Homo sapiens: one gene and its partner. The protein of the gene in region 2 purifies or fractionates together with the protein of the main gene of each other region. This does not show direct contact. Each region holds a gene or a part of one and is shown on either strand. Other genes may lie near its edges. The genes, in order: SPDL1 and THUMPD2.

The links.
Region 1: the proteins of THUMPD2 (region 2) and SPDL1 purify together in Homo sapiens (affinity purification with mass spectrometry; 2 studies listed by BioGRID and IntAct, with this or other methods). This does not show direct contact.

The regions. Positions count from the first base shown.
Region 1 is NC_000005.10:169,584,421-169,593,900, reverse strand, and holds part of SPDL1 (protein Spindly), read right to left. Parts: intron 6,703-9,480; exon of another isoform or gene 6,529-6,702; intron 5,529-6,528; exon of another isoform or gene 5,508-5,528; 5' UTR 5,485-5,507; coding exon 5,326-5,484; intron 5,303-5,325; exon of another isoform or gene 3,072-5,302; intron 2,854-3,071; coding exon 2,677-2,853; intron 548-2,676; coding exon 353-547; intron 1-352. UniProt on the Homo sapiens protein: Required for the localization of dynein and dynactin to the mitotic kintochore.
Region 2 is NC_000002.12:39,753,815-39,764,484, forward strand, and holds part of THUMPD2 (U6 snRNA (guanine-N(2))-methyltransferase THUMPD2), read right to left. Parts: intron 7,605-10,670; coding exon 7,517-7,604; intron 3,555-7,516; exon of another isoform or gene 3,434-3,554; intron 2,147-3,433; coding exon 2,075-2,146; intron 1,596-2,074; coding exon 1,481-1,595; exon of another isoform or gene 1-1,480. UniProt on the Homo sapiens protein: Catalytic subunit of the THUMPD2-TRM112 methyltransferase complex, that specifically mediates the S-adenosyl-L-methionine-dependent N(2)-methylation of guanosine nucleotides, most probably at position 72 (m2G72), in the U6snRNA of the major spliceosome.

The DNA of each region.
Region 1 (9,480 bases), on a different chromosome or scaffold from region 2:
TTAGCTTTCAATGAAAAAACCAAGTTCACATGCATTTCAACTTCCACTGAGCCAACGTTTTACACTGGGCTCTTACGATAAAATCTGGGATCAGAGTATATGCCTCTAAATTCTTCCAGACGTTTCATTAATCTAAGAGAAAGGCTGCCTTACATAATCATATAGTCTAAAGCTATATTATGAATGAAGTCATCCACCTAAAAAAAACCCATTTTTTAATTAGTTAGATGCAAGTTAGGTCAAAAAATGTTTCAGCCTTCAAACTAGCTCTTAAGAATTATTACCAAAACATGTAAAAATATGCCAGAAAAAAAAAGAGAAAACCCTGAGAAACACATGCCATAAAAATTACCTTCATACTCTCCATTTCTGTCAGCTCAATTTGAAGAGCCAGCATCTCTGAAGACATGCTTTCCTGCACACGTTCAGACATTACGCGCAGTTCCTCTGATTTACAAGAGAGGAGTTCCTTCTGATGATCTACTTGGTGCTTCAGCTGCTTTTCACTAAGCCTGGCTTCATCTAATTCCACTTTCAGTTTTTCTATCTAAAGCCAAAAAAAAAAAAGTCATAAATTGAAAGTTATTTTCTTTCTAAAAACAATCACTGATTGAACTGATTGAACCAAACTTACTGAATGATGATACTATTGGAGTTTCCTATTTGCCCAAGGTTAGGCATCTTTTAACAGCTAGTGACACACCTTGTTTAATAAACATAGAAATAATCCATGAGTAATCGGGGTGGGTCTGGATGCCTCAGAAGCAATCTGGAGGCACTATGATGCGGACCACTTGGCTACTGTGTGAAGAATGACTGGCATGAAGAGAAACAATGGAAGCAAGCAACCTGGTCAGAAGGCTACAGCAGTAGTCCAGGAAAGAGATGATGAAGGTCTGGATTGGAGTGGCAGTAGCGTCATAGATGTTTTGTAGGTCAAGTTCTTAGAACTTGATGAATTAAATGTGAAAAATAAGAGAAGAAAAGGTATTAAAAAAATCCAAATTTTGGCATAAGTGATTTGAGAAAATCAGTAAAACAAAATATTTCACTAATGTACTCTTTGCTCCACCAAAAAAAAAAAAAAAAAAAAAAGCCATCTCTATAATTAGCCTTACCTCAGTCCTGAATACTCCCTTTATTACTCTTTTTTGTTTAGGTGATGAAAACTATTGCAAAAATAAAAATAACAACCAGAGGGGGAAGAAAGCACATCATTATCAGTCATTAGGGCCTCAAATCCGACTAGTTTCAGACAAGCTGGATGATATTATCTGTCAGAGTGGTATGCAAGATGATTATATATTACATGAAGGTATATTTAGATAGCTATGTTTGTTTTAGTGTATACTGGGAAAAAATAAGCAAGCTTAAATATGTAATTTTGGCCAGGCGCAGTGGCTCAGGCCTGTAATCCCAGCACTTTGCGAGGCTGAAGTGGGCGGATCACGAGGTCAGGAGTTAGAGACCAGCCTGACCAACATGGTGAAACCCTGTCTCTATTAAAATACAAAAATTAGCTGGGCGTGGTGGCGCACACCTGTAATCCCAGCCACTTAGGAGCCTGAGGCAGGAGAATCGTTTGAACCCGGGAGGCAGAGGTTGCAGGTGAGCCGAGATCATGCCACTGCACTCCAGCCTGGGCGACAGTGTGAGACTCTGCCTCAAAAAAAAAAAAAAAAAAAAGGAAAAAAAAATACTTTCATTGATGTTTCTTAAAATCAGTAAACATTAAAAGAGAGTCAATGAGAAATTAAGTAATAGTATAGGTGGTATACAGAAAAAGAAAAATCTTAGAGGCTGCTATACAAGAAGCTGAAAATTGGGTAACAGACTTCTGAGAAAGGAGGACAAAAGTCAGGCAAGTTTTGGTAGACAGTGTCTGGAAAAGTCAGAGTATAGACTATACACAAAGCAGATCCATGATAAAAAGTTCTGGATTCCTCAGAAGCAACCTGAAAGCACTGGCTAGCTGGGAAAAGGGAAAACCACTGACCAATCATTTATCTTGCGTTTATGTTTGAAATGGAGCCAGTGTAACATGCTGTTAGACTATGTAGTGATTCAGTAACACAGCCTTTGGAGTCAGACAGCCTCAGTTCAAACCTAGATGGAGAATTTCTAGTTCTTGAATTGTGTCCAATTTACTCAGTCTGTCTAAACACTGGCTCTTTCATCTGGTATATGGAAATGATAATGGTACCTTTCCACAATATTATTGTAAGAACTGGAGCACATGTATTAGTTTATCCTCAGTAAACAAACTATAAAGTGTCATTTGTAATGCACATTAACTAGTAAGAAACTACTGGTCTGTTTTACAGAATTACAAAGCATACCACTGACTGCAGGGAAGGCTAGGAGACGAGGCTTTCTGCAAGGGGCTGCTGTACCCACTATCAGCAAGGAGGCCATGCTAGTCACTAAACTAAACCTTCACAAATATCCAGCAACCAAAATTAAATAATTGTATTTAATTAATAGGATATAATTTATACAAGTCCCTTAGACAAACTCTTGTATCTCAGTGTTCCCACCCCCAATATTAAGATAATGAAGACTTAGATCTTGGCTATTTTGCAAAGCTGACACTTAAGAAAATCTTTATCATCTAAAGTTTACAGATGGCTGCATAAATATGGAATATTTTGTGCTGAAATACGCAGATATCCCAACCTTAGTTTTTAGTTCATTCACTTCCTGTCCATGGCTTCTGCTTAGTTGTTCTTCCAATTTCTCCAGGTGCATTTTTTGTTGTTGTTTAATAGCTTCACATTCGCAGCTCAAACTTTCTAACATTCGACTCTTGAGTTCAACTTCTCTTTGAAGGGTATATTTTTCTTGTTCATAACTCTGAAAACAGATTCAATTACAATTCAATTACATAAAAATAGCCTAAAGCCATTACATACAATCAGTTTTCAACTTCAATTGTTTCATTCTTATTTCAAGCATTTGCTGCTTTCCAAATAACGAAGACATGTTAAACCTGGAATAACTTTGTAGTTAATCAGTCTTAATAAACCCCTGAGGTGTATTTCGAAACTATGTTAAACCCATGCAAGGGATACCTTACTGCTTCTGTGCCTTGTCAAGGAAGTAAAATGTGCTCCATGGTATGTCAACACGTCAAGTCAAGTAATCTCTGCTAACAACAAAAAAAGATTTAACAGCACTTAAGCTTTCCTCATGAGAATTATTAGTTTGATAATGAGATGCTCTACTTGTAGCTCTGAACACAATGTAGTAGTAATAATAGTTGAAAAAAAAGAAATACTGAATTAGCCTTTACTTTCAGAATGTAGTCATCTGAGAAATGTCACAAAAGGTCTATCAGAATGAATGCAGAGCTGAGACAAAAGGAGTAATTAAAAGGGCTTTTGCTTACTCACAGGGAAGTTTAGACATTAAAAATGTTACAAGTACGAACTCCTTCAAGAGGCTTTAAAAAATGATAAAATATTCCCCTCAAAAACCATTTTATTTTAAAGGAAGACAAAGAGTATTAACTGTTAAACACTGAAATTTGACAAGTTATGACTCAAAATGATTAAGTATAACAGTTTTATTTTCTATTAGTGATATTTGTAATCTTTACTTTGCCTTTATGACTTTGCACTCAGTTCTTGGTTTACAACAGTACTATGTAGAAACACAAAGGTTGCCATCACTAGTTATTTTTACCTGCTACAGATATTTTTTACCTGCCATATTTACAATGTTGAGATTCAAGTTTAAATATGTTACTGAGCATTTGCTAAATTACCCAGATTTATTCATTCATTCTTTTAAGAAATAATCGTGTGGCAGGCATTCAGGATAGTGAACAAGGCATACAAAATTCCCTCTCTCATGGAGTTTATAATCTAGAGATAATTAGCAATGCAGATAATTAAGAGTGGAATCAGGGCCGGGCACAACGGCTCATGCCTGTAATCCCAGCACTTCGGCAGGCAGATTACGTGAAGCCAGGAGTTCAAGACCAGCCTGGTCAACATGGTGAAACCCCATCTCTACTAAAAACACAAAAATTAGCCGGATGTGGTGGCACACATCTGTAACCCCGAGCTACTCGGAAGGCTGAGGTAGGAGAATCTCTTGAACCCAGGAGGTGGAGGATGCAGTGAGCCAAGATTGCGCCACTGCACTCCAGCCTGGGCGACAGAGTGAGACCCTGTTTCAAAAAAAAAAAAGAAAAAAGAAAAAAAAAGTGAATCAGGGCAACTTTACATTACATAGTAAGGGCTGACCTCTCCGCTGAAGTGACATTTAAATGAAAGCTGAAATCTGAGGACTCAACCCAAGAGCAGTGAGGGGTAAACAACTCAAAAAAAAAAAAAAGGCAATAGCTGGTGTAAAGCCCATAAGGGAGGACCAGTATAGTCAAGAACAAGGCAAAGCAGTTTGAGGTGAGGTCAGAAGCTTGGCAGGGGTCAGGTCACATAGGGATCTACAAACCCAAGGATGGAGCTCAGATTTTGTTGTAAATAAAATCAGAAGCTGTTGTATGGTTTTTAGCAGGGCTGTGGCATGACCTTTGGTGTGTTATTCCACGACCACTTAGACGCTGAGTGAAGAATGAATGGCATGAATGGCAACAATGGAAGCAGGCAACCCGGCCAGAAGGCTACAATACTTGTCTAGGAGTGATGATGGTGATCTGGACTACAGTGCCAGTAGCAAAGATACATGCTTTGTAGTCTAGTTCTTAGAACTTATTAATGAGTGAAATGTGAGAAATAAAGGGAAGATATTGACTAAAAGTTCTAGATTTTTGGTATATAAAGAAACCAAAAATATACCAAAAATCTTTGGTATATAAAGATTTTTGGTGTTCAAGAAACTGAATGCTATTATATTTACTAAATAAGCTAAAAAAAATCGTAAAAGAATATTTGGTTAACGGACAGGGAATCCACTCTTCTGTCTGTGTTAAGTTTGAGAAGTCTATTAGTGGGCAGTTGAACACAAACCTAGATTTCATGGGGGAACTAAGGGCTTGGTGTAGTGTCATGGGGCACTTAGATGTTTAGAGGTCTAAAACAAGTGAGGTCTTCTAGGAAGTGTGCAGACAAAGCAAAATCTGGTAGTAAATGTGGCAAAGAGAGTAATGATAACTTGATCTTTCAAACTCTGAATACACTAGGGTGGAAAGAATAACAGGAATTCATTTAGTTCATTCTTTTTTAACAGGGACGGGGCAGGGCGGGAACTAGATCTAAAATCTTCAGAAAAGAATAAACTACTACTACTATTAATTGCTAAACAGGACAAATCTTCAATAGCTAAGCACACTCTTGCAGACAGAGGAGTCCAGAGTCCTACCTCAGTCATGGTCATCATTTCATTACGACATTTATCCAATTGATTCTGTAATTCATTTTGACTCTCTACTAGTTGTAAACCATACTGTGCAGCTTTTAGTCGCTCTTCTTCAGCCTCTTTGAGCCTGCATCGAAGATTTGTGATTATATCTGCCTCCATGTTCTTTTCTTTTTTTTAGCCAACTGTAAATAGAGGAAATAAAACTACTTAAGCTTATACAAAAAACTCCATGCAATAATATCAATAACAGAAGAAACATATCTACTCAATACTACTGTCGTATAAAAACATTAAAATTTTCTTCCTGACTAATAAGTAGTCAAATTTGCATTCTTGTTCCAAGAGCAAGAACTGTTCTGACAATTCTGTTACTGATTTGGGATCAAAAATTAAAGAGTGGAATAGAATACATTTAATTTTGCTTCTAAACAGTTCACCATCAGAAAACTGTTCAGTTGTTGTATGCTAAGCTTCCAATATGTTAAGGTAAGTTTGGTCTCATAATTGGACCACTATCCATATAATCAAAATTAAGGGAATAACAAAAAAGTAATCAAGAAACCTCATAGTAGCAGGTATGGTGGCTCATGCTTGTAATCCCAGCAACTGGGGAGGATTACTTGAGGCCAGGAATTCGAGACCAGCCTGAACAACATAGCAAGACTCCATCTCAATCAATCAATCAATAGAAATAAGGTGGGGATGGTGGCAAGCCCCCGTAGTCCTAGCTACTTGGGAGGCTAAGGAAGGAAAATTGATGGAGTTAGAGGCTTCAGTGAGTTATGATCATGGCACTGACAGAGCAAGACACTGTCTTGAGAAATAATAATGATAATAACAATAATACCACCAGAAAAGGAAGGTCTGGGTACTATAAACACATAAAATATAAAAAGGCAGCTGTGAATAAGGCTCATAAGGTAAAGTAAGAAATATCATGTCTGTAATTTTTCACAACAGTGTTAACTTCCTGAATATATTAAATCTGCTTTCCTGGAAAGAGATTCACTAGTATTTTTCTAGTTATTCATAAAAGTATGCAAAAATAGAAACCATATCCATAAGAATTAAAGGATGTTGCTTTCATTCTAGATTTATAAACAAAGACTTAAACATTATATATAGAAACATTCCACTTTAATCAACCTTACTAATTATCCTTTACTATTTGGTCCCAGCCTCCTAAGCGAGACTCAAACTCACCTTTGCCTTCAAAGGGCACCAGGTCATTGCAAGATGTTCCCCCATGTCTCAAGTCAATGTAGTCATTCACTGAACGAGTATTTCTTGAATGCCTTATATACTAGGTTCCATTCTGGGCAGTTCAGATTCATTAGGGAACAAAATGGACGAAAAAAAAGCTCCTCCCTCATGAAACTTACATTCCAGGAGGGGAAGATAAACAGTAAGTAACAGAATATTAATAAATTAGAAAGGGGAGATGAGAAAAAATAGAACAGAATAAGAATCTGGGAAGAAGGGACAGGTGATGTAACCAGGAGGCAGAAGATGAGAGAATCAGCCAGGCAGCTATTTAGAAGAAGAATGTTCCAGCAAGAGGGGAATCCTTAAGGCAGGAAGAAGCCCAGGGAGTGAAATTTGGCTAAGAGATAGTAGAGAGTGGGCAAATCAGGCCATTATAAGGACTTTGGCTCCTACTTTGGGTGACATGGGAAGTCATTCCAAAGTCTGGAGTAGAGGATCTGATATAATTTAAAAGAATCATTTTGGCTGCTATGTTGACTAGTTTAGAAGGGGAACAAGGCTGGAAGCAGAGACCATGTGAAATGGCTCAGACTAGGGTGGCAGCATAGGAGGCTGTGAGAAATGGCCAGATTTTGAAGGTTTTGAAGGTAAGGTCAATATGATTTTCTGAAAGATATAATTTGGGATGTGTGAAAAAGGGAAAAGTAAAAAATGCCTCCAAGTCTTCTGGCCTGAGCACCTAGTAAAATGGAATTGCCATCAGCTGAAGCACTGATGTAAATAATGTTTTGGAAATAAAATCAGGAATTTGAGTTTTGAACATGAACTATGTCAAGTAGGCAATTGGATATATGAGAAGAGGAATCTTGGCTGGATATGCAAATTTGAGAATTATCAGTCTATAGAGGATAAAAGTATTTAAAGAGAAATGGACCAACGACTGAACCCTGTTATGAGGTAGGGAAGAAGACAGCGGAGAATCAGGAGTGACCAGTGAGGTAGAAGGAAAACCAGGAGTATGTGTTGTCCTGGAAGGCAATAAACAGTGTATTAAGGAGGTGGGAGTAATCAATCATGCCAGATGCTGCTGCTAAGGCAATTAAGGTGAGAGCAGAGAACTGGCCATTGAACTTGAATTCCTGGAGGTCTCTGGTGACAAGAACAGTTTTGATATCCAGGTGGGGGTGAAAGCCTAACTAGAATGCCTTCAAGAGAGAATGGTAGGAGATAAAGATAGCAAGCACAGGTTTGCTGCAAAGGATAACGGATAAACGGAGCAGCAGTTGGAGAGGAAGTAGGGACAAGTTTTTTTATTTTTAAGATGGAAAAAAATAACAGTGTTTGTAGGTCATGGGATAAATCCAGGAGAGAAGAAAAACTGATGATCTAGAAGACACTGGAGAATTGCTAGTGATGTCCCTGAATAAACAGGATGAAGTTTAATGTAGAGACTGGTTTTAATAGAAGCATGGATATTTCATTTAAGCAAAGTATATGAGTTTAGATGCTGATAAGCAGGTACAGTGGTGGAAGTCTGTGTAAGTAACCTTTTAACTGCTTCAATTTATCAATGAATTAGGAAGCAAGGTCTTTAACTGAGAATGAAGACAAGGGAAGAGATACAGGGTTTAAGAGAGAAAAAAAGGTGTTCTAGGTAATCCCAGCTTGGCAGTCACTGCTCTAAAATGCAAGACCTTTTCAAAGCCTGTACATGATACGGCCAGCCAACTAAATGTTGTACTGTTCACAATAACTTACATTCGTTGAGGATTTACCATTTGCCATGCTAACTGCTTCAAATATATTATCTCATCTAATTATCTTGATGAGCTTGAGTTAAGTAAATACTGTCATCTCAACTACCAAAATAAAAATAGGGTTAACCTCAAGACATTCCAGCCAGGCATATCCAGAGAAGCCAAAAAAAATTTGCTTTAGTTTATTCAAAAAATTTGCTGGAATTCTTATTGTGTGAGACATTGTGCTAGTGTTGACAACACAATGGCAACCTAAAACAATATTCCTGTCTTCTTGAATCCTAGTCTATTAGTAAAAGACATTAAATCAAGTAATTGAACTATCAAGTTACAAGTATGATAAGTGCAAGAGAGACAGATGTATGCTACCTGAGCCTGTAACAAGGGGGAGCTGTCCTAATCTGGGGGGCAGCGCGTAGAAGGGAACATGGACAAAAAAATTTTCCTGAGGAAGTAACTTTTCAGCAGAGGTCTAATGGATGAGAAAGAGTTAACCTATCAATCTACAAAGAGAGATAGCCGTGGTTGATTAAAAACTACTAATGTGTGACAGACATTGTGCTTGGTGCTTTATACACATTCTTTTTTTTTTTTTTGAGACGGAGTCTCGCTCTGTCGCCCAGGCCAGACTGCGGACTGCAGTGGCGCAATCTCGGCTCACTGCAAGCTCCGCTTCCCGGGTTCACGCCATTCTCCTGCCTCAGCCTCCCGAGTAGCTGGGATTACAGGCGTGAGCCACCGCACCCGGCCGCTTTATACACATTCTTATTCAATCTTCTCAACAACTTCAAGAGGTTGAAGGTATTTCCCTCATTTTACACATGCAAGCTGAGGCATAGAAAGTTTTAAGTAACTTGCTTAGGGTTACCCGCAAGTTAAGACGCGAAGTGTGATGGGAACTAGAATCTACCTAGAAACCATGGTGCTGCAACCATTTTTCCTGTCCTGCTTCTCAAAAATATAGCACACACAAAGCATTTGGGACACAGGAAACTCTGGGAATCAAACTGCCTGAGTTCTTACCCCGCCTCCACTACTCACTGGCTGCATGAACTTGGACAAGTTATTTAATTTCTGGTTTAATCATCTATAAAAACAAGCACAATAACACCCACCTAATCGGTTACTGAAAGGATTAAATGAGATAACGAATGAAAAGCAATTAGGGTAGAATCTGACACACGGCTGGGGC
Region 2 (10,670 bases):
TTTCTTACCTGGATTATAACTAGAGTTGCAACAGTCTCTTTCTAGTCTCTCTGTTACTGTCCTTCCCTCACTAAAGTCTAAGAGGAATCCTTTCAAAACTAAGATTTATGCAGTTACCTGGTACCACAGAGAACCTTTAAAAAGCACACACACACAAACAGTGGAGCACTTCTGACTGTTTTTTAAATGAAATCTTTTAGAAAATGCCCCCTAAAGTGAAAATACATAAAAGTGAAGCTGGGAGTGCAACAGAGGTCCAATGGCCAACTCAGTACTCCCTCCTTCATGCCTACAAGGTGCTTTGGAGAATGTAAAGGGATTGAAAACTCACTGCTCTGGAACAATTTAGGAACCAATTTCAGTTTTCTTAAAGGTTTCAAAGAAATAGCATTCTTAAAGAAATTAGGGATCATGAAAGCTTGCAGTCTAGTCACCCCTTAGTTTGCTCTACAAACTTGTGTCTCCTGCACAGAGTCCTATTAAAAACCTTGGCAGAAAGGCTTAAAAATAAAAGTCACTGGCAGCAAACAACTATGAGATCTCAATCAACAAGACAATTTCTTCTTTGGGGATGCTTTATTATGCTTTTATGCAAGTTATCCTAGTATTTTCTTCTGTTGATACTCATCTTTACTACTTTTCCACTACAATAAAATTTCTTAAACGTATTTTATTCCTCCTGATTATAGGTCTGATACTGGGACCTATCTACTACCTATCACTGTCAACAGAATACAATGTTCTTACCTGGGAATTAAATTCACTCATTATTTAAGGGAGAGACATATACTGGGGGAATAAGAAAAAAACAAGGAATAGTTTTTAAAAATTGTCTAAACGCCAGGGATCTCAGGAAAATATTATTTTGATTGGCCTCAATAGACTTGATTCCTAGTTATGTGTGTCACTGCTGATTCCCCTTCATTAAACAGGGTACTGTTTTCCCTCTACCTCACAGGGTGGCCAACTGTCCTGGTTTACTCCAGACTTTGCTGATTTTAGCACTAAAAGTCCTGGTTTAGCAAATTGGGATGGGTGGTTAGCTTACTCCTGTGTATCTCACGGATACTGTCTAATGTGAGGCAAGACAGTAAGATAATTCAGAACATTTCATATTATTTATTCAAAAGAAATTCAAAGAATTATTATTACACTGCTTTCTTTATGGCTATTTTAAACGATCACTGGTTCTGATACGAGAAATGGTTCAGATGCAACACTTTTTTTTTCTTTTTTTAACAAACACATTTTAAGAAGTCATGCTTTACATGCTTACGAAAACTATAGAATTGTTGCTTCCCAATTATGAACACTTTGAAAATAAAAAGGTTAGACTATTAGAAGTAAACTGAGTATTAGTCCCACAGATATATTAAAGGGTAAAACCAACCTTTACATAGTGAGACTTGTTTTATATTATGATTCTAAATATATTTACATTGTTCCTTTTCTCAATTGTTTTGCATTTTTAGTATCTTACCTATAACAGAGATTTTAAGTAATTCAATTTTATCCTCAAGGCCTGCAGCTTTCAGATTGTCCCAAGTACCTAGTAACTGTGAGTCGCTGACATCAGCACCTACATAATACACATCCTATGGGGAAATAAATATTTTAAGCATAAATAAAATTATTACATATTTCATGTAGTTAAGAAAATCGACTTGCATTTTCTCAAATGACAAGTGAAATTAGTAGATTTTAAATTCAGGTCAAAACACATTTAGGGTATTCTTTTAAAATCATAGTAGCAAAAAATGTAAAGTTTTTGTTAAAATTTTAAAAATCTGTTAACATTTACAATGACAAGTGTCTAAAGAATTTGAGGATTAGTATAATCTAGGTCATGACTAATGATTAGAATTCTCTCATATTTTCCTAAATTTATCATAGTATTTAAAGAAACAACATAGCAATTTCATTAGTCCCTCATCATCTATTTTGAGTAAATAATAACTCATATAATTAAAAATAATCCCCAAATAGACATTCTACTTGTAAATAATTGGTGATTATACTACATATACTGATTAAAGTAGATAAATTGCTTGCTTTACCAAACTTTAGAACTTACTGGCCATTCTTTAGCAGCTTCCAAAAGTATTGTTCCAAGTCCACACATTGGATCTAAAACAAATGCACCAGCCTGCAGACAGAAATATTAATTTGGTATTATTAAGACTACCATAGTACGTACTATAAAAGAAACCTAAAACTTGAGGAATCAATATTTCAAGAGGAAAGATTACATTTTAAAGGGGTGGTGGCTGAAGGGACAGATGGGTTCAGGGGAGGGTTTTTATTTTTTTAAGTTGAAAGATATTTCAGCAGGTGTACATGCTGATGGGGATGACCCAGTAGAAGGAAAAATCCCTAAGTCTACAAGAGGCAATGGAATCCAGCACACAAGTATTAGTGTGGAACAAGGACAGCTCCCTTATTGTAATGACAATAAGGCAGAGTATGTGGGCATAGATTCTGGTATGCTGGTAGACTTGGTGAGGAGAACATGCAGAAGTTCTCTTGTGATTCTATTATTTAAGTCAAATAAGAAGGAAGAGAGCCTGAGAATGGCGTGAACCTGGGAGGCAGAGCTTGCAATGAGCAGAGATCGCGCCCCTGCACTCCAGCCTGGGCGACAGAGCGAGACTCCATCTCAAAAAAAAAAAAAAAATGGCAAGGAAATGACTATAATGATCGAACTTTTTAAAATACAAGCTGTGAAGGAGGGATGAGCACAGGTGGTAAGGAACACGGGTCTGGTCAAATGACTGGAGGGCCCCGTGGGGTTAAAGATTTGTGTTCGGGTAGCAGAGGAAGTGAACAGGAAAGAGGAGGTGGTTAAGAACAAGATTCCTGAATACAAATTATCAATACCAAGCCGATGCCACGTGTAAATTCAAGCTTTGGCTTGACAATTATACGGTAACAATCACAAGAAGACAAGCATCTGTGGTGCGGAGGCAAGCAGGCTAACTAGAAGTTGACATGCTAAGAAAGTGAAACTGTTCTTTCTTAGTTAATGGTCTTTCTCCGGAGCTCTGTTACTCTGAGTATAATATTTCCATGACACTTAGTAAATGCAAGCTAAAATGTAATAATAATAATAATAATAATAATAATAAATGGTATTGGAGAAAAAAAAAAAGAAACTGAGATTTTTGGAAGAGATACCCTTCTGGGTATGACAAGGTCTAGGATGTGACTACAGCAGATGAATAGGGAAGCCAAGAAATGAAGAGGCAGGTTACTGAGTGGTTAGAGACCAAAGAATCATGACGGGATAATGGTCTGTACTCTTACAGGAATGAGAGGGAGAGAACTCTGACTGGGGTGATCTGATGGCATGTGCTTCAAAGGCACTATGAGGTTCTGGGCAGACGGGAGAAAACAATTGTCTAGAAGGGGCAAGGAGGAGCAAGCAGGAACGTACCCCACTGTCAGGCCCAGTCGTGCTCGAGATAGGGGAGAAAAGACATCCACCACTTGATATGTCTACAGAGGAAGCAGAGTCCTCAGTGCACAGCCAGGTTTCAGTCAGAGCCATATGGTACCTAATGGAAAGAAACAAAATGTTCTTCAAGAGACAGAAGCCTTCCCCTGGTACTAAATTTTAAAGAGAATATCACACAAATCCCCCATGAAGGGGCAGTAAGGAGCAGAAGGAAAAATTTAAATGCAAATTTTGTTGAAAATTGTTAATAGCATGAGAACCCATTTTTATTAGGATCTCAAATGTGCCATACGCTGTGCTCCTTCTCTCCCATGGTCTGTGTTCAATGACATAATCTGACCTGAAGTATCTTTAGATGGCTTTACTTTACCTTAGGACCTTTTCTTGCCATGACACTTGTAGACACAGGCTGAGGTAGAGATGTATTTCTGTATACTTACAACAACAATTAAGATTTATAGAACTTGATTTTCCTTGTTATGATATGTAGGAAGGAGAACAGTTTATAGTAAACATGATAAATAACAAACATCCCATTTTTAAATTTCATTTTTAGTGGCACTGGCCTTACCCAAGGCTGAGCTGTCTGTGTACTGCTCTGGGTACCAAGCTCCAAAGAGGGAAATGGATCAGGTTGGATACTGGGGTCACTTAGATTGTGGGTCACTACCACATTCCCTCCAAAAGAACTCTACTATGCCATTTCCTAGGTTCTTTAACAGACCTCCTTTGCCAGTGGTCACATTTGGAGAGACATTTCTTACTTTTTGTAGTCCCAGGGCAAATACACAGTAAGGAAAAGTTTTATCAAGCATTATCTTTGTATATTTTTGATCATTTACTTTTGACTTTTCTGAAAAACATGTTTATATTAAAACAAAGGTAACATTTCAAATGTGTAGGTGATTATATAAATTTATATTTAAATACAAACTCTGGTGAAACCACTGGCAGTTTGGGAAAAAATTAACCATACCTCTTTCTTTATACTAAAAAAATCTGAACTAAACATTTAAATCAAACAAAAAAAGAGAAAATCATGGGTTCTGGGTACCTGGTAATCTGAAAGAGGCTCCCTCCTCCACTCTCAACTCTAAGCTTTTTGCTTCTGCTGAGCCAAGTGATGCTCAGACCTAGAGGCAACTGGCGCTAAGAGAAGCCCTAGGCTCTGTCACAGTCCCAGAAAAAGGAACATGTGTGGGGCCTCCCTGCTGTGGGTTGGGTAGTGATTAGAGAACAGCAGTGGAACCCAGAGGGGAGAATCAGTGGAATTAGGGAAGAGCTTGGTCTTCAGAGATCTATGGACTCAAAGAGAGGTCAGTGAATAGAGAAGCTTCCTCCAGGTATCTCAGCAGGACTGACAGATTCTCTTTACACTGCTGAGCCTGGGGTGCCAGAGATCCATTTGCCTTTTACCATTTATAGGATTCTGGCCATTTAAAATACTTAACAGTCACATTTTAGTCCTAGTGAGCTAAAACAAAACACAAAAACAAACAAAAACCAATGGCACATCTAAAAAAAAAAAAAAAGGAGGAGGTCCCTCAGTAGTTTTAGAGTAAATAGGCAGAATAATCGGAACACACACCCAGTAAAATAGAATTACTAATTACTGGAGAACACAGATCAATATTTGAATAAAAGAAGAGCTTTCAGAGATACTCAAATGTGACACACATACCTTTTGAAGCTAAAAAGTCAGGATTTTTTTAAGCTAAAAATATAAATAAATTAAAATAGAGCATGTCTCTGTGACTCTTGTAATTTGGAAGATAATGTTCAAGAATAACTAAAAATGCAGGGCCAAAATATAAAGAGAGGGAAATCATGTCAAAAGGATAGGAGACTTGGAGGATAGAGCCAGGAAGCTTAACATGTTCATAATAGGAATTTCAGAAGTAGGAAAAAGAGAGTAGTTTAAAGTTAAATTCACTAAATAGTTGAGGCAATAATTAAATAATGGAAGAAAAAGTGCTTAGGCCGGAGAAGTAAAAATAAATAATAATTTTTATAATTATATATTTGAAATAGTAATTATAGTTCTAGTTATTAACTACAATTTTGGTATAATTATTTATTATTACCAAAATGGCAGCTAATACTTAGACACTTTCTGTATGTTAGGCACTGTTCTAATCATTTTATTAATGCTAATTCATTTAATCTTGTCATGATCCCATGAGATATTACTACTCTTTTCATCTTGCAAATGAGAAACTGAGGCACAAAGATCTTAAGTATTCCGCCCAAAGCTTCCCACCCAGAAAGTGATGGCCAGAATCTAAGACTCAACAAGGTCTGGGCTAAATAGAAAAGACATATACATAAGCATGTTCTGGTGACATTCCTTGGCTTTAAGATTAAAGAGAAACACCTTACAAGTTTCCAAAAAGAAGGAACAAAGTAGTTATAAAGGAAAAGAAAAAATCCCACTGGCATGGTCTGCTCATCTGTGTCACCGGAAGCTAAATGACAATGGAACAGCATCTACAGACCTCTGAGAGAAAAGAACTGCAATTCAGGAATCCTATACCCAGCCAAGATAGAGATACCCAGGATAACAGGAAGAAATTTGAAGATACAAAGAATTCAGACAGTATATCGTTTAAATACCACATTTGAGGAAAATACCTAAGACAAGACTTTACCCAAGCAATAAGTAAACCAGAGCAGAGGCCTCAAACAGGGCAAGACAAAGAGAAGAAGAGAAATGGCAAAAAGCAATAAACCTTGTAATGTATCTTAGTGTGTGTGTATATAAAAATATGTGTGTATTACGTGGAATTCTATCTAATGACTAAGAATAGGCTGTGTAAGTGCTAAGAACTTTTGAAACCCAAGAGCATACTCAAGGAAAGTTCTGGTACATAATAAATAACTTAGCTTCTCCAGTAGTTGGGGCTTGGGAGAGAAAGGGGTAAAAATGTTCAAAGGTCTCACTGTAGAGAGGAGAAGAGAAAAAAGTACTCTAAAGGTCTCATCTTATGACAGGGAAGAGGGGGAAGTTGGGGAAAATTGGAGTGCCTTGGTAAAAACGGTGTGTCTTGGCAGAGGGAGTAGTTGATGTTCTGTTTTAAATTAAGAGTAGAGTCATATATATTTAGTTAAGAGAGCTGGGAAAAGGACTGTAATGGAATAGAACAATGAAGTAAAATCTCTAACCACAAAGAGAACAATGAAATGATTAGCAAGTAACTTGGTCAAACTAGCGAAAATAAGAGAAGGAAACAAAGTGTGAGAAGTTATGAACAGAATAAAAACAGGAAGAATATAATCAAGTCTATCTGTCACAACATTTACTGAATTCTCTCACTGAAAGAGAGACCATCAGAGTGGAGTAAAAATAGCTATGTGTTTGTAAAAAATATGTAAAGTTGAAAAAAAAGCAGTGGCAAAGAAATACTAGGCTGATGCAAACAAAAAGGAGTGAAAATATTAGTAAGACAGTGAGACTTAAATTTAAACTTAACCAAGATAAAGAGGACTTAAGTAACAAAAAGGCACACTTCACAATGATGTATTGATAGTCATGAACATGTATATACCAAGCCACATGACAGCTGAATAATTCAACAACTCATAAAAATGCAAAAACTTAAAAAAATACAATATGAGATTTCAAAAACTTCTTTCAAAATGGAGCAGTGAAACACACAGTAAGTAAAAATAATGGAGAACATTTCTTCACTAGAAGATAAAGTCATCTTATGTCCATAGAACATTTACAAAAATTGACCAAGATCTTGGTCACAGACAAAAACTTTAAGAATAGGAGGTTTTACAGGCCACATTTTCTAACTGTGACACAAAACATTAGAAATAATGAAATGTAGCTAACTTTTGACTCAGCTTTTTCAGAGCCAAAATACTCTCAGAAGTTCAATAATATATAAAAGCATTACTGCAGCAGTTTGTAAGTACAATGGCAAAAAGAAAAGAAGTTAAAGAAAAAGCGTCAAGAAAAGAAAAAGCAAGTAACATAAATATCCATCAATAAGAGACTGTATAAGTTAATTATGAAAAGAACCTTGCTATTAACAGGAAGGAAAACATTTTTCTTACCTTAATGTCAGCCAGAGATGCCATTGCCCACGCTATTGTAGATCGCAGTCCAGCTGTCTTGATGTAAGCTCTGCTGGCTAGGGAAACCCTACAAAGGATAGAATCTGATTATATATTATTACACATTGAACAACAAGATATAAAAATGATTTACCTGTCCAAATCTGAGAATCATTTAAACATATTCATCCAACATACACTAAAGTATTCCCTAAGTTAGACAATGTTTCAGTCTTATTACAAAAATTGCTTCTCTAATGGGCACCTTGTCTACCCAGCCAGTGTTGAATTTCAGAAAGGTAAATTTTTAGACAACTGAAATTTACACTCTCACGTATTTAATGTATAAAAATGTAATTACACATGAGGAAAATCTTTCTTATACTTCCCTGTCTTCCCATACAGAGTAGACCTTTTTTTGCTATTTGAAGTCATGAAGGGGAATGTACTATTTTGTGATATAAATGTAGTATGGGAAGTAGAACTGAAGGGATGCTAACCCTTAAAATCTGTTTTCTATAAAAAGTCCCTTTTGTAGGTTTGTTTTTTGGTTATTTGCATCTTTCCCAAAAGATGAAATGAAGCATGACATTGCATTGTCTAAAATAATTTACTGGATGATGGGCCAAAGCAGACATCTCCCAAATGAGTTCACTGGTCTCCAAAAAGCATCAGTTCACACTTTATCCTCCACCTCATCAATGCCACTATCACATCAATGTTTCCAGATTTGATAGAAATTTTCAAAATGTCATCTATTATTTCTGTCTTTCTAATGCAATGAACAAGCAGAATCTCCTTGGAAATTACAACTTTCCAAGCTTTTCTAGTTCACTTCTACAATTTGTTGGTAAGGTACGAAGACATGATGTCAAGAATTTGTGTGGGTTTGTCTTGGGGTTGGCTTCTTCCAAAACCAGCAAAAGAGGTCTTCTACGAACATTACGGAAAGCCATGATTTTCTTCAAACCCTCCTTAAGGTTGTTCAACAGAATTCTAGGTATGTGAATATTAAACATTTCTTTCTTTCACCATTTTGCCTCTCATCTTTCTTTGACTTTAACTTATCCTGTTTTTGTATTTATTGCAAGCCTCTTAAAATCTTAGAACTAAATGATATACCCCTTTAAAATAAAACAGTGTAATTGTATACTTGCTATTATAATGAGGAAGTTCTACATGGCAAACCCATGGGAGTTTGGCTTTTTAATAAAGTTTTTTCAAGAAACAACAATTCACATTGTAAACAGTACTGTATATATACATTTGGAATGAGGGATGTAAACTGGCAGGTAGAAACACTATAAAATATTTTGGCCAGTGAATTTTGCTTCTACGGGGTAAGCTTAGCAATTATCTTGCTATAAAACAGTTTGCACTCTAGATACCAAAGTTATAAAACACAGTTTGCATTCTAGATGCCAAAACTATAAAACAGAGTTTGCATTCTAGATACCAAAAAGGGAGACGCAGTATGGGAAACCAGCTTTGTCCATATATATGAAAAAATGCTCTTCTAAGCAGCAGGAATTTATATGGAACCTTTCAAAGTTTCAAAAACTATGTATATATTTCTGCTAATAGAAGTTTTTGTGGGACATAATTCTATTAATATTTGACAAAAGTGAATGTTCACATTTTGCTTAAACCTGGGCAAAATTATCTCATTACTTCAACAAAAGGGCCCCATTATATCAGTATAACAAAATTATTCAGAAGAAGGCACGTTCAGAAATAAACTCCTTGAAAATAAAAATAATGCTTTACTTTCAGAGAACCTAGCTAATGTACACGGTTCAAAAATAAATGTGGTTTTTGATCCTCTTCTCTGCATGTGTGCATTTTTTTTTCTCTTGTACACCTTGTACCACCAAGACAAAGACGTCCTAATCTATATCTCTAGCCTAGACTTGTTACCTGAACCCCAGATCTTTATCTTCAAATATGTGCTTGAACATTTTTATGTGGAAGATAAGTAGTGCAAAGTCAACAGGTATAAACTGAATACACTATCCTGGATTTCATATATTGATACATTTCTTCATTTTCTTGTGCCACGTACTATCCATATATTGGGTACCATACTCTACCTCTTCAGTCTACACTTGTCACCTGAACTCTAGATCTGTAACTTCAAATATCTACTTGGACATTTTTCACTGAATACACTGTTTTCTTTCCCTACATTTTGTATCTCAGTGACTAATACCAGTATTTACTAATTGTTCAAATCAGAAATCTGAAATTATTCTAGACTCCTTAACTATTTTTTGATTTCATGGCCTTTTTGTTACCTCCAAGAGTTTAAATCCTCTCCTTCTCTCTTTTTATTTCCCTTTCATTTAAAAATATAATTTTCTTGGTAATTTTTTTGAAATCACAAATCTGATCACATCACTCTTCTGCTTCAAATTCTTATTGCTTTAAGGATAACATCCAAGCTGTTTAACATATTTACAAGGCACTTCATGGCTTGTTTCTAATTTTCTACCACTTTCTCTATGTCCCATTTATACTGAAACTACCTGCCATCCCCCATGTAAATCAAACTTCCTTATACATACTTAAACAAGGCACTTCATGGCTTGTTTCTAATTTTCTACCACTTTCTCTATGTCCCAACTACACTGAAACTACCTGCCATCCTCCATGTAAATCAAGCTTCCTTATACCTTGTGCCTTTGCACAGAGATTCCTTGCCTGTAATACCCTTTCCTTCTCTTCTCCATGCGGCATACACTTTCTTATTGCTTTCAAGTCTCCTCTTAGGGACAATCCTTTATCTTTCTGCTCACAGGTCCGTAATTAGAGTTAGTTTCTCTTTCCTAACTCTAATCAAGCATTTATCACAGATCTGTGCTAACACTGGATTGAACTGTTTCAAAAGTTGAAATTTATTCAATGCTTACTGTATCCTAGAAACAGCAGGAAAGATTTTCACGTGGGTTATCTCATTTAATCCCAAGGACGAAGCTATAAAGTAGGTACTATTATTTTCCTGATTTTATAGCAGAGAAATATGATAACTTGCCCAAACTTGCAGAGTTATAATAATTTGTGGAGAAGATAGAATTCAAGTCCACAGTTCTTATCTGCTATGCTATACTGTAGTAGGTGATGTGTACAGAGTGGCAACAGCTATATACAGTTAATG